Homo sapiens: one gene and its partners. The protein of the gene in region 3 purifies or fractionates together with the protein of the main gene of each other region. This does not show direct contact. Each region holds a gene or a part of one and is shown on either strand. Other genes may lie near its edges.

Evidence for each region.
Region 1: the proteins of ITPR1 (region 3) and ERLIN2 purify together in Homo sapiens (affinity purification with western blotting, with the first as the bait; 4 studies listed by BioGRID). This does not show direct contact.
Region 2: the proteins of ITPR1 (region 3) and RNF170 purify together in Homo sapiens (affinity purification with western blotting, with the first as the bait; 2 studies listed by BioGRID). This does not show direct contact.
Region 4: the proteins of ITPR1 (region 3) and IRAG1 purify together in Homo sapiens (affinity purification with western blotting; 2 studies listed by BioGRID and IntAct, with this or other methods). This does not show direct contact.

What each region holds. Positions count from the first base shown.
Region 1 is NC_000008.11:37,753,634-37,758,952, reverse strand, and holds the end of ERLIN2 (erlin-2), read right to left. Parts: intron 5,039-5,319; coding exon 4,838-5,038; 3' UTR 531-4,837; downstream 1-530. UniProt on the Homo sapiens protein: Component of the ERLIN1/ERLIN2 complex which mediates the endoplasmic reticulum-associated degradation (ERAD) of inositol 1,4,5-trisphosphate receptors (IP3Rs) such as ITPR1.
Region 2 is NC_000008.11:42,893,576-42,900,965, reverse strand, and holds the start of RNF170 (E3 ubiquitin-protein ligase RNF170), read left to right. Parts: upstream 1-4,360; 5' UTR 4,361-4,482; exon of another isoform or gene 4,483-4,769; intron 4,770-5,858; exon of another isoform or gene 5,859-6,999; coding exon of another isoform or gene 7,000-7,013; intron 7,014-7,390. Other genes in the region: HOOK3 (protein Hook homolog 3), read right to left, coding at 3,778-3,834. UniProt on the Homo sapiens protein: E3 ubiquitin-protein ligase that plays an essential role in stimulus-induced inositol 1,4,5-trisphosphate receptor type 1 (ITPR1) ubiquitination and degradation via the endoplasmic reticulum-associated degradation (ERAD) pathway.
Region 3 is NC_000003.12:4,839,327-4,846,356, reverse strand, and holds part of ITPR1 (inositol 1,4,5-trisphosphate-gated calcium channel ITPR1), read right to left. Parts: intron 219-7,030; coding exon 132-218; 3' UTR 1-131. UniProt on the Homo sapiens protein: Inositol 1,4,5-trisphosphate-gated calcium channel that, upon inositol 1,4,5-trisphosphate binding, mediates calcium release from the endoplasmic reticulum (ER).
Region 4 is NC_000011.10:10,627,755-10,634,784, reverse strand, and holds part of IRAG1 (inositol 1,4,5-triphosphate receptor associated 1), read left to right. Parts: intron 1-713; coding exon 714-817; intron 818-2,723; coding exon 2,724-2,794; intron 2,795-5,073; coding exon 5,074-5,247; intron 5,248-5,956; coding exon 5,957-6,034; intron 6,035-6,759; coding exon 6,760-6,812; intron 6,813-7,021; coding exon of another isoform or gene 7,022-7,024; coding exon 7,025-7,030.

The DNA of each region.
Region 1 (5,319 bases), on a different chromosome or scaffold from region 3:
TGGAGTGCAGTGGCGTGATTTTGGCTCACTGCATCCTCTACCTCCCAGGTTCAAGTGATTCTCCTGCCTTAGCCTCCCAAGTAGCTGGGATTTCAGGCATGCACCACCATGCCCGGTTAATTTTCTATTTTTAGTCGAGATGGGGTTTCTCTATGTTGGTCAGGCTGGTCTTGAACTCCCGACCTCAGGTGATCCACCCACCTCAGCCTCCCAAAGTGCTAGGATTACAGGTGTGAACCACCGTGCCTGGCTTCTTTTCTTTTCTTTTCTTTCTTTAAACCAGGTTATTTTCTACACAACATTTTTGTAGAGGTATGTATCCTCAATACTGTGTTTGCTGCATTGCAATGTCATTCCCTTCTTCTATGTGCTATCCCATTTGTAATCTTATTCCATTTTTTTTCACGTGTTTGGCTTTCTACTTAGTGGCTCCCATTTAATAGCTGTATGTTTTTTAGCCCGTTTCTCCAGATTGAAGTTTTTGAATACATACATGCAAGGTACAGTGTGAAAGCCCTTCGTATGCATTATTTCATATAAGCCATGCAACTCATTTTATTAATGAAGAAACTGAGGCTTAGAGAGGTCAAAAAACTTATTCAAGACCACACACCTAAGAAGTAGTAGAGCAGTGATTTGAACTTTGGCAGTCTAACTGCAGTAACTACACTCTTAACATAACTATTCAATTGTTAAGATCATATTATTTGTGTAGCAGGCTCTCAAACCAATAGAAAAAGCTTGGGATCCCTGTTAAAAAAAACCTGAGAAAGCCTGGGCTAGGGTTGCCGGACTTAACAAGTAAAAATACAGGATACCCAGTTAAATATGAATTACACATAAGCAACAAATACTTTGGTATGAGTATGTCTCATGCAGTGTTTAGGACACATAGTACTTAGACTAAAAATTGTACATTGTTGAAATTCATATTTAACTAGGTATCTTATGTTTTATCTGGCAACCCTAAGCTGGGCAGCTTTCCAGAGTAAAGACTGGGAGTTCGTCCACTGAACTGATATCAAAATGAATTTTGGTTCACTTGAAAATATCTTTGTCCTTTGGAGCAGAATTGCAGTGGTGTGTGAACTGTTTAAAATGATAAATCTCTATAGCACCTACCAAGAATTATGCCACGTTCACAAATTCTGTATCGATAATGGGGATAGATTTTCATCTGTTTATTTTTAGAGAGATCTTGTACTTAACTCACTAGTCTGGGATGTTTTATTTATGTCACCTAATATTAACTATTGCTAAATTTCACTTTAATAAAAAAGTAGATACAAAGACTCATTTTACTTAGCAAGACTGCAAATAAAACTAAGACATAAATTCACATGTTAGTATTGTCCAAAACAATTCCTCCAGCTATCAACCCACGGCAATCAATCCAGCAGTATCATTTATAGAATGATTACTAAAACAAGAATCATTTCTCAGTTACAAATGGGGTCATTAAGCCCTTGGGGCTCTTTGAAAGTAGAAGTAGTTTGCCTACTTAATCATCAGTCTACACAAAGGCAGAAATAAAAAGGAATGGAAATACAAACACAAAATGATTGGTTATTACCTGTTTTATAAGGAAACAAGAAAAAAAAAACAGTGGCTAGAAACAACAAAAAAGCAGTGGCTGGAACCCTACTGAATAGAGCTTAAAGAAGTACTGGTTACATTCACAGACACAGTAGCCACTAGCCAAGATATAGTTTATCTCCATCAAACTTAAATAGATAAAGTCAGTAAGTATGACCATCTTACTTTCACTATTTACGCTCTTTAAATAGTAAAGGTATCGGTTTGAAAGATACATAGAACCATAGGAACAGTGAATGATCATTTATAAAACAGCTCCTTTTCCTGAATCAATATATTGCTAAAATTCTTTCAGTAACCCTCCCTTTTTATATGATCACAGATCCCTCCACATCTATTTTATTTTAGTTATATAAAAATTATTAATAAACTTTGGTTTCCTTGCATTCGGTCCTTATATTTTAAAAAGTGATTAAAAACAGTACTGAATATGAATCACTTCTGCAAAGTTTAATGAGTGAGAAACATTCAACCAAGGTGATTTTTCCTTGGAAAACCCTACAAAAACTGAATTTTATAAACAGTTACTTATTTTGATAGATGTTCCATTTATAAATAGCAGCCATTACTTCACTGTCTACAAAATTGCAGGCTGTCACATTTTACATGTTTAGAATTCAAATGTTTTAAGATTAGATTTTCTAGTAAGAGTTAAAATAAAAACAAAGTTACACAGACAGGTTAGTTGTCCTATGCAAATAAAACAGCTGATTTTCATGATTTTGCTATTTAGACAGATAAGAGACAACCATTGGATTGACACTAATGTGTAGGATAACATATTTTTTGTTTAAAGAGGAAATGATAGAAACTTGGGGTGGGGCAGCTGCAGCAGGACTTGACTCTACTGAGGCTCTTCTGTGCTCATGGGACAAGCTATCGCAGGATGTTAGTACCGGAGAGGCCCTCAAGTTAAGACCTGAGCAAAGTGTGCTATTCAGAGAAGCTGAGCTATCCCTGCTCCCGGTTCTACTGTGGTGAATTGGTGTTTTCTGAGGTCTAGGCAACAAGAGCTCAGAGTAGAAGGAGTAGACATTTTCGGGAAGTGGGATGCTGGGCATGTCATGTTGCTCTAACAAGTGATTAATAGCACGGAAATGGGAGGAAGATGAATGTATTTTAAATGGATACTCCCTATGCTAGTCTTGGGAAATGACCTTCTTTTCTTGAGACGGAGCCTTGCTCTATTGCCCAAGCTAGAGTGGGATGGCATGATCTTGGCTCACTGCAACCTCTGCCTCCCGAGTTCAAGCAATTCTCCTGCCTCAGCCTCCCAAGTAGCTGGGATTACAGGTGCCTGACACCATGCCCGGCTAATATTTCTATTTTTCGTAGAGATGGGGTTTCGCATGTTGGCCAGGGTGGTCTCGAACTCCTAACCTCAGGTGATCCGCCTGCCTTGGCCTCCCAAAGTGCTGGGATTACAGGTGTGAGCCACCGCGCCCGGCCAAGGGAAATGACCACCTTCTGAAAGGACTCTGGAGCACATTAAAATCCATCACTCCCAGGCACATTTTGTTGCCTGCAAAAAGTGTGCCCAGGACCAGAAGTCCCAGGAGTCAGAACAGAGAAGGGCAACTTTGAAGTAAGGGGAGCTAACACTGTATCTTTCTAGGCAGGCTCAATGCTCCCAAAACTTCTGAGCAAGCTGGCCCAAGCTCTGGGACCATTCCTTAAACCAGAAGTCTGGGCATGGGCCCAAAAAGAAGGCAGGGATTGCTGCCAGAAAGGACCATTCACAGATTCACCTAGGGAAGATGGGTATAGGAGTTGGCGGGGGGGGGGGGTGGGGGGTGGGGGGTGGGGGTCAGCTCATAACAGGGCCAAGTCCTAAGCCAGAGGTGGTCATGGAGGGCACCAATATGCTTGCAAGTTAACTCCAGATAGCTGCCCTCCACTTAATTCTAGACACAACCCATGGGCTATACAGGTTGGACACCCCCTACCCCTCAATCTCAGGATATAAGAAAAACCTTTTGTTCAAATTTGCTCTCCCCATCCTGAATCTCCCAAGGTGACTCAAAATGTTCTGACCTAGTAATGAAAAAGAAAACCCTTTGAATGGATTTTGGCACAGCCATTCCAACCTGGGGACTTGGGCATGAACTCTGATTTGCTCCACACAGCTGTCTCTGGAGACTGAATGTTCAGCCTGACTTGCGTTGCTGCCTGCAGCCCTGGATTTAAAAACACAGGCTACTTAGTGAATAGAGTCCTTTTATCACTAAGTCAGACCCACTCCCAGCACAAGCCACAGGCATTAAGACCAGGACATCTCTTGACTGATCGTTCCTCCTCCTCCACACATGGTGTCAGACCTCTTCACTACAGAATCTCTACAATAATAGAAAGACACTTCATCTCGAGGTGCACACATAACCTGTCAGGCAGGTCCTGCAGTGGCTAAGAGATAACAAGGATCCCACTCCAGCAGCTGTTAAGACACTTGAGTTGTTTGTCCCTGTCTTCTTGATGCTGAGTGGAACCAATGAACAGAATTTTTGAGAAGAAAAAAAAAAAACAAATCACAGCATAGGTGAAAAGATGCCGAAATAATTGAGTTGTGGTGATCAAGCTCTGACTCTAGAAATGTAGTCAGAAACCACCACTCTGAGCCCTAGGGCAAGGAGCAAAGTGTATACAAAATCTTGCAAAACCTAGCACCAGTACTTCCTTATGAGGGCTCAAGAAAGCACACCTCTAAAATAACTCACACACATGCAGACAAGAATGCCAGGAAGGTCAAATGTTCTCTGCAGCTGTTTCTTCACAGCTCTACTGGCAAACTCACAGGCACATATTTGCTCAGTTGCTGAGCCTCACCCACAGACATCTCCTACCTTGGAGGCAGAGGTGAGAACACTGGACTGCATTTTCCCAAGTAAGGGAAATCAAATGAGTTGGAGGTAACACTCTACATTTCTCCCTCTCCTTAATGACAGCATCCCTAATTAAGCCAGCCTCAAAGGATAAAATTAGTGTCTAGAGGTCAAAGGTCAAGCCCATGATTTACAAATCTTATTGGAAGTCATATAAACTGCTTACCTGAAATAAAACCCCCCATCATCAGTCCCCACCCTCCTTTCCCTAGAAAGGGAGTGGATTTAAGTTCATTTCTTCTTTTTCACCACAGTAACTGGAAGACAGTCAGAGAAGGTAGTCGGGGAGGGAGGAACATTCTGATTCATCTTAAAAAATAAAGATCTGCTTAAGTATCATTTGCAGTCATATCAAGTTTTTTTCAATTCTCCTTAGTGGCCGTCTCCAAGGGTTCATCTTCTAAGCCAAAGCTTAGCTTGTCAGCTAGCCCCTCAAACTGCTTGCTCACACTGCCCGCAGAGTCCATGAACATGTTAGGAATGTCTTTGCCAAAGTAAATCTTGCTGTTGGAAGCAATGGCCTTGTACTTCATCAGCTGCAGATATTCAGGGGTTAGCTTCAGCTGTTAAAAAAAAAAAAAGTATGGAAGACTTATGTTGAACCATATTAGAGAAGGAGGGGAGTGGTGCCCCTTCAATTTTCCTATATTTATGCCCCTACCTACTTTTTGTGGTCTCATTGTTACATTTCTGTAAGAGACAGTCATCTCAGATCTTGGAGCATAGGTGCAAAAGTTAAAAGTTTCCATGTTTAACACAAAATTAAACTAAACTTCTATCAAGGCATGTCCAAGGAGAAGGAAAGTACCTGCACCACACAGCAAAGGCATCCTCAGTTCTGCCC
Region 2 (7,390 bases), on a different chromosome or scaffold from region 3:
TCCCTATGTCACCAACAATGGCATCACCTGGGAACCTATTAGAAATACAAAATCTCAGGCCCAGCCCAGACCTACAGAACTAGCAACTCTGGGCATCTGTGTTTTAGCAAGCTCTCCAGATGATGCAGATCAACACTAAAGCATGAGAATCTCTGGTGAAGTTAGCAAACATAAAGTTAAATATCAATGCAATCAAAACACAGAGGTGAAGTTACAAAGTCACATCAGTTAGTATAGAACAAAACTAGGATTTGAACCCAGGCTGCCTAATGTCAGAACCTGTATGTACTCTTATGCTATACTATCTTTTTAAGTACTTTAACTTTTGTACATCAGTGACTTATTCTTCCATTAGAGGACAAAAATTGTTGGCAGAATCGAGTTAGGCAGAGGAGAATGGAATGGGGGAGATACCACCATAATAATTATACCACCCCCAATTCTATATACTAGTATGCATTTTATAGGCTGCCAAATAAGTAATATGAAAACAATAAGGACATATTAATGTTGCTAGGTTATCCCAAAGTGTACCGAGCCTATGTGATGACTTTTTTTGTCATAACTTGGTAGCATTGTAGACTTCGTTTTTCAGTCTCTAAAACCTGGAAAAGTGCTATCTTTTCATCGAGATTCACATACAGTTCAAGAAATTAGGCTTCACAGGTGTAATTGGCAGGGCAAATTTTGACTCAGAGGGTGGAGAGAGGAGGCACAGTGGAAATTTTCAAGCATGTCCTGCTGAACTTGTTTGCATAAACTTTGATTTGGAATTTAAGCTTAAGATGTTTCCCCTTGGTAAGATGATACTTAACTCTTTTTGTAACTCTCTCTTTCGAAAAAATTTGGAACATATGGTTCTTGGGCTAGTAGGCTGTCTGATAAAAGGGCAATTTATCTAGCATATGAGGCAATGAGACGTTCCATTGAGTTCTGTATAGGTGACAGAATCATCCCTTTAAGTACTTGAGCTTTTATTACTTTAGCCATTTCTAGTGGAATAATTTCTAAAATGTACTATATACATCTCTCCAATCTCAAACTAAATGCTATGTAGTGAAAACAAACTTTTATCTGATACTCAGGAATATAATTATGATCTTCAAAACTTGAACAGGGAGGCTCTAGAAGTACATAAGGCTGTCATCCCAAAGACGGAATCATTCAGCTCTTAGATCTTGTCTGTCACTGACAGTTGTCTGCATTTTGCTGAGTGTCAGTCACCTTCTAGCTTACTGTGTGAGAGCAAAACCCCCCACACAACCAAACTGACTAGAAGCTGACATAAAATCAAGAAAACTAATCTAAATGAGTCTTTTCTTTGGAGTGTATGTGTACATTTTTGCTTGCATTTGGTTTTAGAATTGTGCTTAGCATTAATCTGGCTTACAGATAGGAGGGGTGATATTATACATTTAAATGTCATCAAACATTGCTCATTGAAACATTTATTCTGCTTTTTATAATGACAGCTAAAAGAGAACAAACCCAGCATTTAAACTCTATTTTGAAACATGTCTTTTAAAGTGTTTCCAAATTTTAGAACTGTACATCTTCATGAACACTGCCCTCCAATTTTGTCACTGATAATCTCTAATCTTATCCAGAAATTCTCATTGATGAGTTTCCAGTGACATTTCAAAAAGCCTATTCTACAATACTATACTCCCTGACCTCTCTACAGCTGATAATGTGGATTACTCGTTTTCTTGACATTTTAGGAGATTCTAAATAGATTCTCTCATGTTGTCAGGTTCTGTCAGCAGGCCTTCAAACTTCTAAGATTTCTCCTGTATATTTTTATCAGCATTTCTCACTTAAATAAATGCAATTACTACCTACCATATTTTGTGGATACCCTTCAAATACAGACGGTCCCCAACTTAGGATGGTTTAACTTAAGACTTTTCAACTTTACAATGATGCAAGATACACATTCAGTAGAAACCATACTCTGAGTGCCCATACAACCATTATATTTTTCATTTTCAGTACAGTGTTCAATAAATTGCATTAGATATTCAACAATTTATTATAAAACACGTTTTGTGGTAGATGATTTTGCCCAATTGTAGGCTAAGGTAAGTGTTCTGAGCACGTTTAAGGTAGACCAAGCTAAGCTACCGTTTGGACGGTTAGGCGTATGAAATGCATTTTCAACTTACGGTATTTTCAACTTATGATGGGTTTACCGGGATGTAACCCCATCGCAAGTTAAGGAGCCTCTGTACACCTCTTTATTTCCATGTCTTCTTTCTCCCTAGATTTTAAACAATGTAGCCCTACTTAGATTCAATTAGCTTCATCTTTGCCTTCTGGCTGCTTCTTCTAGCATAAAGGGAAGCACTACTTGCACAGTCTCAAAAACTTAAATCTTAAGTTCCTCAGCATTCTGTTTACAGATGTACAGATTCTGCCAAATCTATTCCTTCCACAACATCAAAGAATTTAGTAATTCTTTCCTCTCTCTCTCTCCCCTGCCTAGTCAGAAACCTCAGCCACATTATACAACTTACCAGTCTTCCTCTTTTCTGAAATACAGCAGTGAAAGCCATCTCCTTGCCTGGAGGGAGAACTCATCAGAAGGGTAAGCTGCACGCTAACTACATACTACTGCTAACGATCTGAAATCCCCTAAATGGTCTGATATGCAACTGGCTACTCAAGCTCTACCAAGTCTGTTTCAGAGGACAGAAATTGATTCGTGACGTAGCCAAACTATAAAAACCTCAGACTATTTTTATTAATTTTTTTAACAACCAACGTAAGGCAATACTTCTCCAGCCTTTCCAGCAAAGTGCCTTGCACAGGATCGTGACGTCTACACTCCAGGGATCCTGACTCGTAACCCAAGACACCGCTAAAGAGAATTTCTCTCACATTCGTGTTTTACCTTTAAAAGTAATACAAATGCTGTAGTAGCCTTCATAAACACATCCGTAAACATTTAATTAACATTCTCAGCAATGAGTGAAACGGAGGCTCCCGAAGGCAGCGCGGGGTCCGCCCGGGCTCTGCGCATCCCTCCCCCTCCCCGGCCGCGCCGCGGCGAGAACGACTGGAACCCGGGCGTCGGTTCCCCTGCCGCGTCCTGAAGACCCGGCTTCAGGAAGGCGCGGCAGCTGACGTGAGAGGTGAACATGTATTTACTTCAAAGTATGAGGAATCTAAAACCGTTTAAGAATTCAAAATCAGAATCCCACGACTCTGTCCCCCAAGGCCTTCGAGTTCCATTGTTGACGCCCAGACACCTCCAGACTCCTTTAAACGTCTGCCCGACGCCTCTGACAGGCGTCCGCCCCTCGCGCACTCCCACCGCCAGCGGTGCCTTGCATCCGAAACGGGGTCCCCGGGCGCCTCCCGCATTCTCCCCACGCTCCCTCACAGGTCCTTTCAGTTCCCGGGCCGGAGCCGGGCCCGTCCTCCGCGAACGCGGCAACAAAGGCGAGGAGCGGCGGCGGGTCCTGGACGCGGGGCAGTCAGGCTCGGCCACCCCCAGAGCGCAGCGCAGCCCCAGCTGCGAGCAGCCGCACGGATCCCAGAGTCGCCCGCCGCGTTCCCAGCCCAGCCCCGGCCGGGGTCCGCCCGGAACAGCGACGCCTCAGGCCCGGCAAGTCTCTCTCGGACCCTGGGCCGAGCCTCCTCGCCCCGCCCGCCCCAGGCCCCGGATGTGACGGCACCGTCGCCCGCAGCGCTCGCCCCACGGGCCGCGCGTGGAGGGTCCCGGTAGGTGGCGGGGGGAGGGGGTCTTCCCGCCGGCCCGCGGCCCCCACGTACCCAAGTGAGGAGGCTCTCGCACAGCTCCGCCCGCTCCAGCGACTCTACGCTGAACATCTTCCCCGCCGCGGCCAGGCAGCGCCTACCGCCTGGCCAGACACCGCCGCCGCTCTGTCGGGGGATCCGGGGGCCCGCGCAGCTGACTCGGCCTCAGGCCCGCCTGCTCCTCGGATCCGGCCGCCGACTCTCGCCCAGCGCTGGCAGCGGCTCCGCACCGTCACCCCCAGCGCCCCTCCTTCTCCTTTCACTCGGGACCGCGCGCCAGCCGCGCGCGACTTCGGACACGCCCGCCGCCCCGCGTCCCCGCCCCCGGCCGCCCACACCGCTCCTCCCCAGCGCCGCCGCCCTGGCTGGAGCCGAGGCCGAGGAGCCACTGCGCACGCTCGCGCCCCGGCCGACCCGCGCCGCCGCGCCGCCGCCGCCGCCGCCGCCGCCGCCGCTGCCGCCGGGCGCGCCCCCGCCACCAGTTCGCTGCGTGTCGAGGCGAGCACGCGCTCCGCCCTGGAGGCTGCGGCGACGGGTCCTCCTCCGCCGTCCGGTCGCGCCCTCGCGGAAGCTCGGCAGTGCGCGTGCGCCCGCACCCGCACTCCAAATTAGAAAGGGGACGTCTAGTGGGTTGCCCGGGAGGGGTGGCGGGAGCGGTCCTGGAAATAATCTGTCCTCTGTCGCCGGGAACTGGCGAGGTAGTTCCTTCGCGGTGGAGAGGTACGTCCGGCGCGCGGCGGCCACGCCCACCCTATCGGGGCCCGCGGAGCCGCGGACGGCGGGGTCTGGCCTTCTTGGGGTAGCTCTGGCCGCCGAGGCTCTGCGGGGCGGCGGGAGTCGCCGCCTCCTTCCCCCCGGGCCCCTCCCTCGTCTGGAAGCCCCAGAATCGCCCCGCGGCTGTCCGGAGTCGCCGGCGACGGTGGAGGGGCCGACGCGGAGAGCGGCTCTAGGTGGGTTTGGCGGCGGCGAGGACACCGCCGCTCCCTCTAGGGTCGCTCGGAGCGTGACCCTGAGAACTCTCCTTAATGCAGGAGGGGTGTGCGCCCGCTCGCCAATCCGTAAGGACACCGGCCGACCCCGGGCCTGCGTTTCTCAGCGTTCGGAGTTGCCTTCGCTTAATGGCGAGGCGGATCGTTCTGGAGCTTCCACCTCTTTAGAGGCACGAATCTGTCTGCTGGGCTGCCGATAAATTTTTAACAGATATAGCATACGCAGAAAAGTGCATACGACATACACGTTTAAAGAAGAATTAATAAAACACCCAGATAAAAACGAAAAGGGCATTACCGGCACCCCAGGAGTTTCTCACCCATGCCCTGTGCTCCTTTCGGAGCCTGATTGTCTCCTAGCCTGACTAGTGTGATCATTTCCTTACAGCTTTACCATCTATGTGTGCATGCGATGTCGTTTTCCTTTGCCTGTTTTTGAACTTTTGCGGGTGGATCACAGTGTGTTGTTTTGTGGTTTTCAATCAGTATTAAATTGGTGTACTGTGTATGTATAGGTAATTTTAATTGTTGCCTAGTATTCCAGTGTGAATAGAACAGTGAATCCATTCTACTCTGGTTGGGCATTTTGTTCAGACTGAGGCCACTCAGAACATGGCTATAAACATTCTAGTGTACCTGGAACGTAGTGCAAATATGTTGGAATTTCCAGGACATGCACTTTGGAGTCCTTAGAGAATTGTCGATGCGTAGAGTATGCATAACTACCACCCAATGCCAAATTTTTATTTGGAGTGCAACAAAGCTAACTTCCCAAGACACACTTTGCTTTGTAGTTCCTGGAACCCCTTTCCCCCACTTTTTTTCCATTAAGAGTAGGTTTTCTCATTGAGCACTGAAAACTGCCAAGACAGCATTGAGTGGGGTTTTTTGTTGTTGTTGATGGTGGTTTTTGAGAAAGGGTCTCGTTCTGGAGTGCAGTGGCGCAATCTTGGTTCACTGCAACCTCTGCCTCCTGGGCTCAAGTGATCCTCCTACCTCAGCCTCCCAAGTAGCTGGAACCACAGGTGCAGGCCACGATGCTCAGCTAATTTTCTTATTTTTTGTAGAGAGGGGGTCTCGCTATGTTGCCCAGGCTGGTCTCAAATTCCTGGGCTCAAGTGATCCGCCCGCCTTAGCCTCCCAAAAGTGCTGGGATCAAAAGTGTGAGCCACCGAGCCTGGGTCAGCAGTGAGTTTTTAAGGTTGCCTTACAGAGTACCACTTGATAGTTGACCCCTGATCATTTAGCATTTTGTAAGTGTAAAAAAAAAAAAACTTACCTGAAGTATTCTCAATGGTCTTTTTTTCAAACATTCTTCCCTACACCAAGGGCAGAGAAACCTTTAGAAATTACACATACGTGGCCAGGCGCGGTGTCTCGCGCCTGTAATCCCAGCACTTTGGGAGGCCGAGGCGAGCGGATCACGATGTCAAGAGATCCTGGCCAACATGGTGAAACCCCGTCTCTACTAAAAATACAAAAATTAGCCGGGCGTGGTGGCGGGCTCCTGTAGTCCCAGCTACTCGGGAGGCTGAGGCAGGAGAATCGCTTGAACGCGGGAGGCTGAGGTTGCAGTGAGCCGAGATCGCGCCACTGCACTCCATCCTGACGACAGAACGAGAATCTGTCTCAAAAGAAAAAAAAAATTACACATGTGTGTCTCGCCTGTGTTTGGTTCCTGTGTTGGTGCCTCTGGATATTTGTCAAACTAGAGTTCCTACATTCCTTATCAGGTTATTTCTGTCGAATCTCTAGCACTTTTAAGTGACGTATAATCTTGTAGGCAAGTGAATGAAGTCAGTGAGTATATGTCACATTGACTTACTCCTGACTCACATGCAGCTTGTCTTTAGATGGGCAGATAAGATGCTGGCCCTACTGGAGCGACTGTGGTTGTGCCGTCCTGAGCACCCTTCCTCCAGTGGCCCCGGTTTTCAAGGCTTTGACACAATGGACCTAAAGTCTCCTTTTTCAAGCTTGGCTGCATATCCACAGTGCTTTTGTGCATGATGTTACGTTGTTCTGGAGGTTTCATTTTGTAATTCCAGTTACCTTTGATGAAAGAAATTAGTAAAAACTTTTTGGATGTGAGTAATTGCAGAAGCCATGTGGCTGCTGAGTTTCTACGTAAGCCTTGGGGTAAAAAGACACTGAGATTCTCTCCTTTGTTCCAGGAAGTCCCGGAATTTCCTATTTTTCTATTTTCTCTGTGTGTTTTATTTTTTTTCCTTCCCTGAAAGCTTTGGAAATGCCTGAGGAGAGGTGAGTTGAACTTGTCTTAGCTGTCTGGTTACTCCGGTTAGTTGGAGGCTAGTTCTCACCCACAGCTGCTTATCAGATTAAAGAGGGCATGTCCTGTGTGACAGTGCTCCAGATTGCATCCTGTCTTCCCAGGGAACACATACTTAGAGCTGTGATTAAAGAGAGTTTGAGATGCTATGTGGAGCAGCTCTGGGGCAGGCATGGCTAGTTTTTATCATATCAAAACATGGCTAGTTTTATCATGATTCCTTGGCGGTTGTTAATAATATTAACCAAACACTGTAGCTTCCATTTACTGAGAGCCTATATGATGTGCCAAGCAGTATGCTAAATGCCTTACCTTCATTATCTCATTATAAACTTCACAAGGCAAAGCA
Region 3 (7,030 bases):
CAGTATAAAACTGAGTATTTACAAATGTATTCAGCATAAATGTAACCTTCGTGGGTGAATCAGAACTCATTAGCCATACCCACACTAATAATAATTATAAAAGGTAAATACAATTCCTTTCTTTCATTTGCTTATGCTGGTTGTTGTGGGTTGACATTCATGTGAGGAGGATGTCCTAGAAGACCAATTCTTTGTTTCTGCTTCCTTTGTTCTGTCATCTGGAAAGTTAAAAAGTTTCATCATTAGACCCAGATACTTCCTGTACGTCAAATCGCATACTGAACCATAGATTTACCTCTGTGGTTATGGTTTATACTGAAACCCACTTTCTACAAATAGTGTACCATCGCTATATCAAACACACAGCACTTCAAAAAAGGCATCTTCTTAGGCAGAATGGGAAATTCTGTGACCTAGTCATGCAATGTAACATTCAGAAGTATTGCTTGCCACTTGTTTCATAAAGAAACAAAAAACAATAAAAGCACAGGATTCTTTCTTGTTTCCCAAATGCACTTCCAAATGATTTGAAGACTCATTGGAAAATGGTGGCTTTGTACGATAGTAACAACACGCCATACTAACAAGAAAAGCAGTGTTTAGAATCCTAGGTTTGAGAGGGAGGGTTCGTGTCCACACTTTCAGTGGGTCCTGATTTTTCTCTTCAATGACTCTTGAGTAGTTGGTTAGAGAAAAAAAAAATTACCTACCATAACTAGGAAAATGAGAAATGTTCTCAAATCTCTTTGAGGTCCAGAATGATTAAATGCTGTAAATAATGCTGTGACCATTCACGGTATCTATTTCTTGCCACCCAGTAGACACTGAGGCTCGCTGAAGGTCAGGCGAGACCATTGCCTAAGACTAGTTCAAATGAAAAAGTACTTTCAAAATCCCAAACAAGAAGCCGATTCTATTCATTTGGTTGCTGAACTAAATATATTCTCATGTTGATGGGTCTCTAGACCTGTTCTAGGTATTTTAGGGCATACTTACTTCTGTCTCTGTATTAAGATTTTCCTTAACCCAGTTAGTCTTAGTTTTGGATTTTAGGGTGAGCATTCAAGTCAACTGAGATAAAAAGGCTATACGGAATATATATTCAAGAAAATTGTTGTCTGCAAGTGGGTTAAGGTCCTACTCCTATGTTTTTAGCTTCCTAAAATTGTAGAGGAATTAGGGTAAAAAGAATAAAGGCTTTGGAATCAGATCTAGTTTCTTATGGTTTTGTCATTTAACTTATCAAAGTCTGTTTTCTCATCCATACAATCAGGATGATAATTCCTAGCTGATTGGTGGAGAATTGCGAGGTTATACGCAAATTTATTAGCATAGCATCTGTCACATAGTAGATGTGACACTTAATCTCACTTTTCACATGAACTCATTTTTGGTACAAAATATCTGGAGAGAACATAAAACAAGACTAATTTACCTAGGTTCAATTTCAATGTGGTTATTTTTTCTTCTTCAAAACTAGCATTATCCTCTCAAATCAAAATACTATTTTTAGGCTCCTGTGGAGATGCTTTCTCTGTTATAATTTAGATGAGAAGACTTACAAGGACTTAGTATTTCCAAAAGGTAGCTTTTAATAAAGCTTTTAATTAAGAATTGGATTAGGAAATTCCAGCTAGCCCCTGAAGTTTCCTTAGGTGAGTGACATCTTTAAAGGAAGTGTTACACACTACACTGTATCCACAGATTCGGCTCAGGAAGGAGAACCTAATATGACACATGAAATAAATTCACAATTAGGTTAAAATGCCAGTAATTCATTCATCTTACTACCTGATAGTTCAGATGTTTAGCTCAGATTTTTCTCCCACAACCCTTCCCTTGGCAGGTAACCTTGAGAGGGAATCCAATACAACTTAGCTAAATTTGGATAATCTCAAGTGTTCAAATTGATTTAGAAATCTTGGTGTGCTCAGCCAGGTGCAGCGGGCTCACGCCTGTAATCCCACCACTTGGGGAGGCTGAGGTGGGCAGACTGCTTGAGCCCAGGAGTTCGAGACCAGCCTGGGCAACGTAGCAAAACCCCATCTCTACCAAAGGGGAAAAAAAATTAGCTAGGCATGGTAGCGTGCACCTGTAGTCCCAGCTACTTGAGAAGCTAAGAGTGGGAGGATCACTTGATCCTGGCAGGTGGAGGTTGCAGTGAACAGTGATGATGCCACTGCACTCCAGCCTGGGCAACTGAGATCTTGTCTTGGAAAAAAAAAAAAAAAAATCTTGGTCTGCTCAACCCTTATTGAAGGATACTTTACTCAAAGCTTATATTTAAAGCTGCTGAAATCTTTCAACTCAAAGTTGAATGTCAAAGTTGGCCATTAAGACTTTTTTCCCCTGTAATTTTGCTTTAAATAACTACTTGTATTTGAGATGACCTTTTAGTATGCGTATTTTCATCCCTGTTTGTTACATCAGCTCTCCTTGACTTTTCAATTTGTCAGTTAGTCTTTCTCTTCAACTTGAAGAAACCTCTGAAACTTTACAACAAAGGAGTCTTCAGTTGGTGGCCTGGCTTCCTTTTCACTTCCACAGCCGCGGCCTGATGCCTCCTCAGTTAGCAGCCCTATTCATCTGTCTTCATAAGTGATCCCATCGCCCACCCTCCCTCCGTCCCTATCCTTAAGGCTCCCCACTGATGTGGGTTATTGGCCAATTCTTTGCTCAGGTAGTCATATTCCTGATAATTTTAAGTACCAACTACACATCTAATGTTCTTTTCTGTTTCTCTAGAAGAATGGTTCTCAAACTTCAGCATGCGCCAGAATCACCCAGAACATTTGTTAAAACACAGATCAGAAACAGAGTTTCTGACTCAGTAGGTCTGGGGTAGGTCCCATGAATCTGCTTTTCTAACGATTTCCCAGATGATGTAGACGTTGCCGGTCTGGGGACTACACTTTGAGAACCACTGCTCTAGAAGAGGTTTTTCACTGATAATCTCCAAAATCGGACAAGATCATTTTGAGTATATACTTGAACACTTTTTTTAAAAAAAGTAATTTGTGTACATATATTATTTTTCTCAAATGAGGGAAGCTCTTGGAGAAGATTGTCTGCAACTGAGCATATAGTAGGCACACACATTTGACTGATACTCTTTTGATTAACCATGGCCTTTTAGACAGAATGGCTGTCATTTAAGTCAACATCACTGCCATTTAAGTGACTGCTAAAGGAGAAGGAATTGGGCAACTGCTAAAGTGTTTGGCCTTTTAGTAGCAGTCATCATCCAATTACAAGAGAACCAAAAAAAAAAAAAAAAAAAAACCCCTCAAAACCCTGAAGGACTAAATCTGACCTATAAGAAACTGAGGCCAACAATTCTGGACGCTTAGGTTTCTCCAGCCTCTTAGTGCATATTCTCACATAATTTCTGGTTTTATTAGTTCAATTCTTCTTATCTACTTACCTACCCCACCTACATACATTCACACGTACTATCTATATATCTTGTTATAAGGCATCATTATTGTCTGTTACTCTTACCTACATCAAAACAAATATAATGACCAAAGTCTATCCTTAGCATTTTTGTCAGATAATAGTCTCTCTGGACATCTGAAACAAAATTGACTCTTGAGTAAAAAAAATCTATGGTAACTGTATTCAAAATTCTAATATTGAAACATCTATTTTGAGTAGTGTGAGATGTCTCATTTATAGTACATTTAAAAATCCTCAAAACGGCTGGGCATGGTGGCTCACTCCGTAATACCAGCACTTTGGGAGGCAGATCACTTGAGGCCAGGAGTTCGAGACCGGCCTGGCCAACATGGTAAAACCCCATCTCTACTAAAAATACAAAAATTAGCCAGGCATGGTGGTACATGCCTGTAATCCTAGCTACTTGGGGGCCTGAAGCAGGAGAATCACTTAAACCTGGGAGGTGGAGGCTGCAGTGAGCTGAGATCGTGCCACTGCACTCCAGCCTGGGCAACACAGGGAGACTCCGTCTCAAAAACAAAACAAAGCAAAAAACCCAAACCAAACCTCAAAATTCCCATGTAGCTAAGGATAAACAGTTGTAGTAATGCTGTTCTTCACATCTATACAAATGTAGAAACTAGCTTGAATTTCAGCATTCCTCCTTTTGACTCATCTAAACAAGAAGCAAAGAATAGTGTAGCTTTACAAGTCAGATACAGCCAGACATCTGAAAGACTGTTCATGAAAACACGAGGCATACAGTAGAAATGGGCAAATTTTAATCTACCAGTATTGCCTCTAAATGATTAAAGGCTGGCACTGGAAGGAAAGTTCATTGACAGCACACAAATGCCACATTTCTGGTTTATAACACATCTTAATAGTCTTTGAAAAGCTGCTTTCATGTTACAGGAAGGTCTTGGTTACTCAGATTCTAAACAGCTAGCAAATTCTAGTAATCACAGTTATTTTCTACAGCCCTATAAAATCAGTCATGTTCAGAATGATGAGCCTCAAATACTGAGAAATGAAACCAAACCATCCCTTGAATACAAATATGTTGATTTACTATCAATGTATAGATACAATTCAGATTCTTAGAGTTGATCTCAAATGCTCTGTTTCTCTCTATTTCACCTGGCCAACTCTTACTCAGGCTTTGAAACCAAGCTCCTGAATTACCACCTCTGAGAAGACTTCTGTGGTAATTACTCTAATCCTCTCCCGAAGATCAGATTGAACAAATCACTCCCTTTTCTCCATTCCCAGAGCAATGTGTTCACAGCTCGGTTACACACTCACCAAGTTTAATTATAATTGATCTGTTTACTTGTTTCCCACTCTAGACTTTTAGTTCTTGAAGGCAGAGAAGAGGATCTATTCATCTTTGTAGCCCCAGTACCTAATGCCGCACCTGGCAAACAGGTGTTTCATATGTGTTGGCTGAAAGAAGGAACGGAATTAACCAGACCATACTGCCATTCCTTGAGCATGCCATGCATTTTCATGCCGTTGCTCATGCTGATTCCTTTCCTGGGAAGCCCCCTACTGCATTTCTCTGCCAGCTCAGAAGTCACCTGCTTGTAAGATTATAAAAGCTAAACTCCTTCTGCACTGCAAACTTCACACAGGACCACTACCTACCTACTTCTTTGTGCTCCATGAAACTATTCATGCCTCAAGTCATTCATACTGTATCAGATTGCTAGAGGTCTACTTCTTTGTCTTTCTTGCTAGATCCTGGATCTAGAGGGCAGATGTTGACTTAGTCTTCTTTTGTGGTCCCAGCACAGTATAAGGAACATAGATGCAGTACGGGTCGTTTAATATTCCATTTTCCAACTTTGGGCAGTTATTCTAATCTTGTGTTATGCCTTCTGTCCTTAAGCAGTTAATGTTAGCAAGATAACCCTCTTGTATGAAAAATGCCAAATGCTGTAACATGCTAATGTGATCTGAATTTTCAAGCACTTCTTGTATTCCTAGCAACAGCAAATAATGGTCGCTGTCCTATAGGAAGCCAGTCATATTTTCAAGAAAGTTAGCCCTTCTTAGTATTTGCTCTTTTGCATTATGAAGAAAACATGCAAAAGATTTTTAAGTTCTTACATTAGTTCTCCTCCTTGGAATAAGAATGTAAGAGAATCACATTTAGTGTTCAGAATCTCTTGGGAGGGGAAACTTCAAGATGAGAGGCATCGTTAAATAATACTTAGAATAGCAATCCTAACCAACCATTCTTGGCAATAATAGAAAAAGTGACACCACTAACCATAATTTTACTAATATCCTAACAAGAACTTTTTTCCCTCAGATTGATACATAACGAAACAATCAAAGAGGTAAATAACAGTAAAGATTTAGACCAAAGTCATCCACATTTAAGCTATCGTTGCTCGAGTCTGCTGGTTTTTGAATCAGAAAATCTAAAACAAACAACAACAACAACAAAACAAAAAAAACCTCTAAGTAATGGAGCAATTTTTGTGTTTTCTAGCACTTTTACTAGTGAATGGTATTCTTTCATAGCTGTTTTAAAAAATATCACAAGATTTCTTGGTCATTAATCATTCATGGAGCTTTTATTTTTTAATTCAAAATTTTTTCCCACAAAGGGCAAGAATTCTCACAATTACTATTTAAGAAAGAGCAGCTCTGTAACATATCTGCATTTTTTAATATCTTTTGCACATAAAGGGTTTTTAAACCTTTATGATTGCTATAACCAAACTTAATGAAATTCAAATCTATTCAACAAGTTGATTCTCAAATGCATTAAAGGTTTGTAGGACGTTACATAATCAAAAGAAAACACTGACTACTTCCTTTTAAAAGATGCAAATCCCCCTGCCCCCTCAAAAAAAAAAAAAAAAAAAAAAAAAAAAAGCAGCTATGCTGAATTTTTCCTGTAATTCTGAGTACCTTAAAACTTAAGTAGATCAATCCTGGTAAAAGCACTTGAGAATGTACTACTGGATTCTCATGCTTCTTTTTAACTTATAATATCTTCCAAGAAAAAAAACAGTTCAAATTCATTCACAGGGGAAGGGCTTTCTGAAGAGTGGTTCCAACTGCCAACTTCAAAATAAAAAATGCATAAAAGGCTGGAATCAAGCAGTTTAAACCATACTGGTTTTAATGTCACTTAATGAACCTTAGTCCATATGTAATCAAATTTTACATATTTTGTTTAAACTAAAACTTTGGCTTATCCAGAATAATCTTATCTTGGATTTTAGAAATGCCAAGTCTCTACTATGCTCACTTGTATAAAATGACAATGAATGTATCCTCCATACCATTTAAGTATATGATGCGACTTGACTTCTGAAACTTCAAGCTTTTTTTTAAAAAAAGAGTAAGAACTTAAACAGTCAACCATGAAAGGCAAACAGTACAGTGACATAACAAAGCAAATAAAAACACACACACACACCCCTGACTGGATGATCAGGAGCTCCTGCCCTGGCAATGCCTAAGAACCTTCTGGGCTCCTTTGGTATCCTCATCAAGAAAATAAGGGAATGAGGTGAGATGGCATCTGAAGTCTCGGATACTGTCCTATACCTCTATTCTTTTTTTTTTTTTG
Region 4 (7,030 bases), on a different chromosome or scaffold from region 3:
ACACACACACACACACACACACACACACACAAGAATATTATTCATCCTTAAAAAAAGAAGGAAATCTCACCTTTTGCAACAATGTGGGTGAGCCTGCAGGACACTATGCTAAGTGAAATAAGCCAGGCACAGAAAGACAATACTGCATGATCTCACTTATATGTAGAATCTTAAAAGGTCAAACTTGCAGAAACAGAGAGTAGAATGGTGGTTGCCAGTGACTGGGGGTGGGAGAAATGGGGAGATGTTGGTCAAAGAATTCAACTTACTATTTTGGTTATGAGGTGAATACGTTCTGGGGATCTAACGTACAGCACGGTGACTGTAGTTAATAATGTATTGTATACTTGGAATTTGCTAAGTATTGTCCACCACACAAAAAGGTAACTATGTGAGTTGGTGGATATATTAGTTAGCCTGACTGTGGTAATCATTTCACATCAAAACATCACACTGTATGCCGTGAATATGTCACATTGTATCAAAACATTGTATCAAGGTAATGAAAACATCGCATTGTGTGCCTTGAATATATACAATGTTTATTTGTCAACTATACCTCAATAAAGCTGGGGGAATAAAGAGTAAACTGCATTTGTCCCCTTATCAAGATGGCTCTGAGCATCATGATGTGAGAATAAATGCTCTGGCTCCTGTCCCTGGAAGTCCCACCAGCCCAAGCCTAACTCTGTGTTTTTGTTCTAAACCGGCAGGGTCCTCCTGCCGCAGGAGTATCTTGCAGTCCAACTCCCACGATTGTCCTGACTGGGGATGCCACTTCACCAGAAGGAGAAACCGACAAAAACCTGGCCAACAGGTACAGGTGCCTGATCCTTGCATTGTGACAAACAATATTTCCTAGAACATGAGGATCAGACAGCTATATTTTTAAATAAATCTTTTCTTTTTTCTTGTATCATTTTATTGACTAAACTATAATCAAGCAGTTTTTCAAAATACAAGATAGAAATAGGAATTTTTCCATTATCTTCCTCCTAAAATGATTTTTCCTCTCCTGGATGTGGTCCTTTTGGCTCTGCGACGGCTCCAGCCCATTTGCAGCCTCCTCCCCCAGCAGGGCTAGTGGAGGTTAAAACATTTAATGCCCAGGGGCCCCAGAAGGACTTGTTCCCCCATGGAAAGGGCTAGCCTTTAAGAAAAGCATAAATCACCGCAGGAGAGTTTCCCATAATAACTGTCCAGCTATTTGCAGCCAAACATGAAAGGTGCAGGTGTTTGAATGTAGAATCCTGCCCCTGGCCAAAACGTGTGAAATATGATCTCTTGGCAGGGACATGGGCTCACAGGTAGAGGAATGTCTCCGCCTTGGTTTCACAGAGCACTAGCCCACGAACTGGGCTCGCTGAAATGAGACTGTCTAATTTTCAAAAAGTTAAAAAGATAATTCTCGGCCGGGCGCAGTGGCTCATGCCTGTAATCCTAGCACTTTGGGAGGCCAAGGCGGGTGAATCATGAGGTCAGGAGATCGAGACCATCCTGGCTAACACAGTGAAACCACGTCTCTACTACAAATACAGAAAAATTAGCCGGGTGTGGTGGCGGGCGCCTGTAGTCCCAGCTACTCGGGAGGCTGAGGCAGGAGAATGGCGTGAACCCGGGAGGCGGAGCTTGCAGTGAGCCCAGATCGCGCCACTGCACTCCAGCCTGGGCGACAGTGCGAGACTCCGTCTCAAAAAAAAAAAAAAAAAGAAAGAAAGAAAAAGAAAAGGAAAAAGATAATTCTCATATAAATATACTGAGCATATGTCAAAGATTTACTTACCTCATTAATACAAGAAGCATCTGGATAACAAAGCCGGTTCAAAGGAGGATACAAGCAATGGATATACATATATCATCAGTGGGGAGGAAAGTGCTGGAATAAAACTGCTAAGTTAGATATAAAATAGGTGAATGTTCTACAGGGCAATGAAACCATATTTTTGTCTTTTTTCCCAAACAGAAATCATCTGCGTCTTTGTCAGACAACAATGATTTACATTTTATGAGGCTTCTACAAGTTAGATGTTAGCTCAGAGTCTGGGACCTAATGAGTAGGAAATAGTAAGTCAAAGTCACATCCTCTTAGGGCAGTGGTTGGAAAACTTTAGCACGCGTCAGAATCACCTGGAGAGCTGTAAAATCATAGCTGGCTGGGCCCACCTCCAGAATTTCTGATCTGAGTTGGGGCCTGAGAATTTGCATTTCTAAGACGTTCCCAAGTTGAGAGTCAGAGAAACCCTCGAGAAGCTTGTAAGATGATGTTCTAGGATGACTTTGAAAGAATATACAGGCATCTGGCTGGGCACAGTGGCTCATACCTGTAATCCCAGCACTTTGGGAGGCCAAGGCGGGCAGATCACCTGAGGTCAGGAGTTCAAGACCAGCCTGGCTGACATGGTGAAACCCCATCTCCACTAAAAATACAAAAATTAGCTGGGTGTGGTGGCACATGCCTGTAGTCTCAGATACTTGGGAGGCTGAGGCAGGAGAATTGCTTGAACCTGGGAGGCAGAGGCTGCAGTGAGCTGAGATTGCGCCACTGCACTCCAGCCTGGGTGACAGAGTAAAACTGAGTCAAAAAAAAAAAAAAAGAAAGAAAGAAGGAAAGAAGGAAACAAAGAAAGAAAGAAAGAAAAAGAAAAAGAATATACAGGCATCTTTTCACCTATTTTCAAGTTGTGGATTGATTTTCTGAACAAGATGACTGTTCTGTCTTTCAGAGTTCACAGTCCCCACAAGAGGCTTTCTCACCGACACTTGAAGGTGTCCACTGCCTCCCTGACATCTGTGGGTAAGGACCAGGGCAATCTAAGGCATGTTGAGTAGAAAGACAGGTCTGGCAGCGTGGCTGGGCTTGACTCCTTCCTCTCTCCTGCTCTTTAAGGCGCTCCCTCCCGATAAGTCCAACAGGACAGGGTAGATCAGCCCCTCCGTGTCTGGGTCTAGGAGAAGCATATTTAATTCAGTTTTCATTGCTCAAAAGACAAGACCAGGGCATGAAGAGGAAGATGCAGAAGTCAAAGAAAGAAAGAACAGCTGAGTGAAACTCATTTCTGGGGTTTAGGGGGCAGAGTCCTCCAGCCTCTGCTAAAGAGGCCCACATCCAGGTTGGAGTAGGTGCCTGAGTGTAAGGCCGGCTGCCCTGGTCATCTGCTCATCCCCAGATGGTGGCTCACGATCTGCCCTGGGCTGTTGGAACATAGATCTCATATAGAGTTGGTCCCTGCCTTCATGCTGCTCATAGACTATGAAGAGACTGAGAAATGAACAGATAATTGGGACACTGTATGATAAGAGACTGCACAGAAGAGCTAGGCCAGCCAAGGCAAGAAGGGGACCGAGTCTCTCTGAGGAGAGGAAGTTTTAGGAAGGTATTCCAGAGGAGGTGGCATTTGAGTTGTGCCTTAGAGAGCTGGACAGATAGGCGAGGGAGGAAAGGCATTCCAGGGGGAATAGGAAACACACTGAAAGAGCAGGAACCTCCCTGGAGCATGTTGCTGGCAACTGAAACTCTGCCATGTGTACCAATTGGGACTTTTTCAAATGATAGAAACCCAACTCAAACTACCTCACACCAAAAAAAAATTTACAAAAGCCAGGGCTTGTGATTTCAGGTAGTGCTGGATCCAGGTGCTCAAAGTGGGTTATTAGCAATTGTCCCATTCCATCTCTTGAACCTTTTTTCTTGTGTGTTAGCTTTCTTCTTGGCAGACTCTTCAACACATGGTAGCCAATAGCTACCAGCAACTCCAAGCTTACGCCCCATCAGTGGAGAGTTCTTCTTCCCCATATACTCCACACCAGGATTGCCCCTCAATGGCTTCACATGGCCATCCCCGAGCCAATCCCTGTGGCCAAGGGGATTCTGTTCATTGATTGGCCAAGACTAGTCCACATTCCCACTCTTGGCACAGGGGAGGGGGGTTAGCTAATGGGGAATCAGAGAGGTTTTTACCAAGTGAAAACCAAGGATCTGCTGCCCAAAGACGAATGGAACCCGATGGAGGTGAAATGGGAGCTGTTCACTGCAGACACAGCTGAAGTGGAGGGACTTGGGAGGAGTATGTGGGGGCCAGCAAGACTGGCTGAGCCCAGTTTAGGGTTTGGATACCACACTGAGGAGCATGAGAAATCCCCATGAGATGAGGTGGAGAATGGCATGGCCAGATGTGGCTCTGATAGCCACTCTGATAGGCAGTGGGGGATGGGATGGAGGAGCTCGCCTGAGGGCAGGGACCTCTTAGGTAGAAGACATAATTGTCCAGGAAAGAGCTAACAAGTACGAGCGAGGCTGAGGCAGGAGAATCACTTGAACCCAGGAGGCAGAGGTTGCAGTGAGCCGAGATTGTGCCACTGCACTCCAGCCTGGGCCACAGAGTGAGACTCTGTCTCAAAAAAAGAAAAAAAAAAAAAAGAGCTAATGAGCAAGAATGGAGATGAGGAACAGGCTCCAGAGATGTTTATAGGTAAATGCAGGGAGGACTTGATCAACTGATTGGATGTTGGGGGAGGGAGGAAGAGGGAGAAGTGGGGAGTGACTCCTGTGATCCTGAGCAGCCAGGTGAGAGGTGGTGCCGTTCACCCACCTCATCCAGAGGGGCAGTTTTGGAGAAAAATGGGGTGAACAATGTGACTGGAGGGAAGGTGGCCACGGGGTTGTGGCCGTGGCCAATGATCTTTGGTCTCCTTCTTTTATTCACAAACCTTAAGCGCATTAGCTTGTGAAAGAAACAGGCCAGAAGCAAGAATGCACTGGGGGCGCAGATGGTGCCGGAGGTAAGGCTCCTGGGTGGCCTTCCCTTCCTGACAGAGTTTAGGAAAATTCTGGGAACCTGAGATGGCTCCAGGACCATTTGTGACGGAGGACCACAGGCCATAAGCCATAGGGGCCAGGCCTGCAGAGGAAGCCACTGTCTGTCCCCATGCAACCCTCTTGATGGCACTGGGCTGAGGTTTGGCTGGCTGGGTCAGCTGTGGGCAGAGTCCCTGGGATGAGGCATGGTATGGCATGACCTCAGCCTGGGGCCACGGATGCAGTGGCTCTCACCCCAGCTCATCCTCCTTCTGCAGACCCCGCGGGGCACATCATTGACCTGGTGAATGACCAGCTGCCAGACATCAGCATCTCAGAGGAGGACAAGAAGAAAAACCTGGCGCTGCTGGAAGAAGCCAAGTTGGTGAGTGAGCGATTCCTGACCCGCCGTGGGAGGAAGTCCAGGAGCAGCCCCGGAGACTCCCCATCAGGTAGGGTGGCAGGATGTACAGGTGGCTGCCCTGAGCCCCTCTAGGGTCGGGAGGGAAGGGCCTGGCACCAGCTGCAGTGGGCGCCTCACCTCCGAGGAGGTCGCCTTGGACTCACCTGCTCTCCTCAGCAGAGGTCAGGATTCTGTCCTGGGCTCCCTTCCCTTGATCTCTGTGGGTGCTGGGAAGGATCCTAGGCCCTCTGGGGAAGAGGAGATGGTCTTTGGGGAATTTCTGGGTTAGAGGGAAGGTTTTCCTGGGCCCAGAAATCCTCCTGCTTCCTCTATGCTAGAGTCACTTTTCTTCCTGAGCAAAAAGTTGGGCAAGTGTGTAAGTGTACTTAGGAGGACAAGGGGAGCTTTTGAAGTCAGGGCCACCCTGGGAAGTCGAGAAGGAGCAGCCTCTGGAGCTGTACCTGCCAACCAACGCCAGGCCTCAGTTTCTGGACAGTGCCTTGAGGTCAGGCCAGGCAGGCTGAGAAGTGTGACTCTATCCTCGAACCCCCAAATGGCCTGAGGGCACCCATCTCTTGAGCAGCAGCAGGGAGGGGTTGGGCTGTAACAGGAGCATCATATTGCAGTCCAGCATCAGCCCCTGAGCCCAGCAAGGCAGACCCAGTTCCCAGGGCCTGGGAATACCTAAAAGGATGCCTTTGCCAGGTTGAAGTCCTAAACCTTCATGAATGCCAGCCAATTTGTGTCTGTCTTCACAGCTGTTTCCCCGAACCTCAGCCCCAGCGCTTCTCCTACATCCTCTCGGAGCAACTCACTTACAGTCCCCACCCCGCCAGGTGAGGCCCAGCTGCCCGGGGACTTCCTGCCCTGCCTCTCGCTCTGGGTGGCAGCTCAGCCTGGACAGATCAGCATGCCTCCCAGCCTGCAGGCTTCCCCTTCAAGAACTCTGATGGCCCCTTCACACCCAGAGCAAGACCCCTCTCCAGGGGGGGCATTTGCTGGGCCACCCAGAGGAGGCAGATAGACTTTCTGTTAGCATCTTGGGCTTGTGTCGGGAGGCAGGTGTACCCCAGGGTCAGGAAGGCTGGGTGGGAAAGGGGACTAGGACAGCCTCTCTGGCTCAGGGAGGCTCAGAGAAGCCCTCAAGAGCTTATACAGAAAGGCCTCTTTGGGGTCTGACTTCTTCCCTTTCATTAGGCTGTACCCAGAGTCACACCCTCCAGCCAACAAGGAAAGGGGGAGGGTGCCAGGAAGGGCAACCGGCCCTCATCAGTGCGGCAGGGCACGCTCAGGTCGGGGCCAGGCAGCCTGGGCCCAAATCTCAGTGCTGACATTTCCTGGCCATGAGACTTTGATTTCCCTGTGCCTCAGTTTCCTCCTGTGGTCTCTGTGAACATTCTGTGAGGGCCCACCTGAGAACCTGGCACACGGGAGGTAGTCAGCAAATCTTCCAGGCCTGAGATTGCAAAGGGAGGATAGCCCGGGGAGGGAGATGTGGCTGAAAGCACAGCTGAGGGCCTGGGCTGCTGGGCCTCACTCACTAGTGTCTGGACCCTTCCAGGTTTGGATGTGTGCAGTGGCCCGCCATCCCCTCTGCCTGGAGCACCACCACAGGTGACAGGACCCCCCACCTGCTGTGCTGTTTCTATGCCAATGGGTCTCTCCCCTTACCCCGAACACCAGGAGGCCCTTCGTGACCCACTGGAGATGAGGGTGCTGGGTGGAGGGCATGAACACCACTGCTAGGGGGCCTCCTTGGGGATATTTCAAGAGGAAACACGGTCTCTTCCCATTGCTGACTGACTCCTGTTCACCTTCTCCAGCAGAAGGGG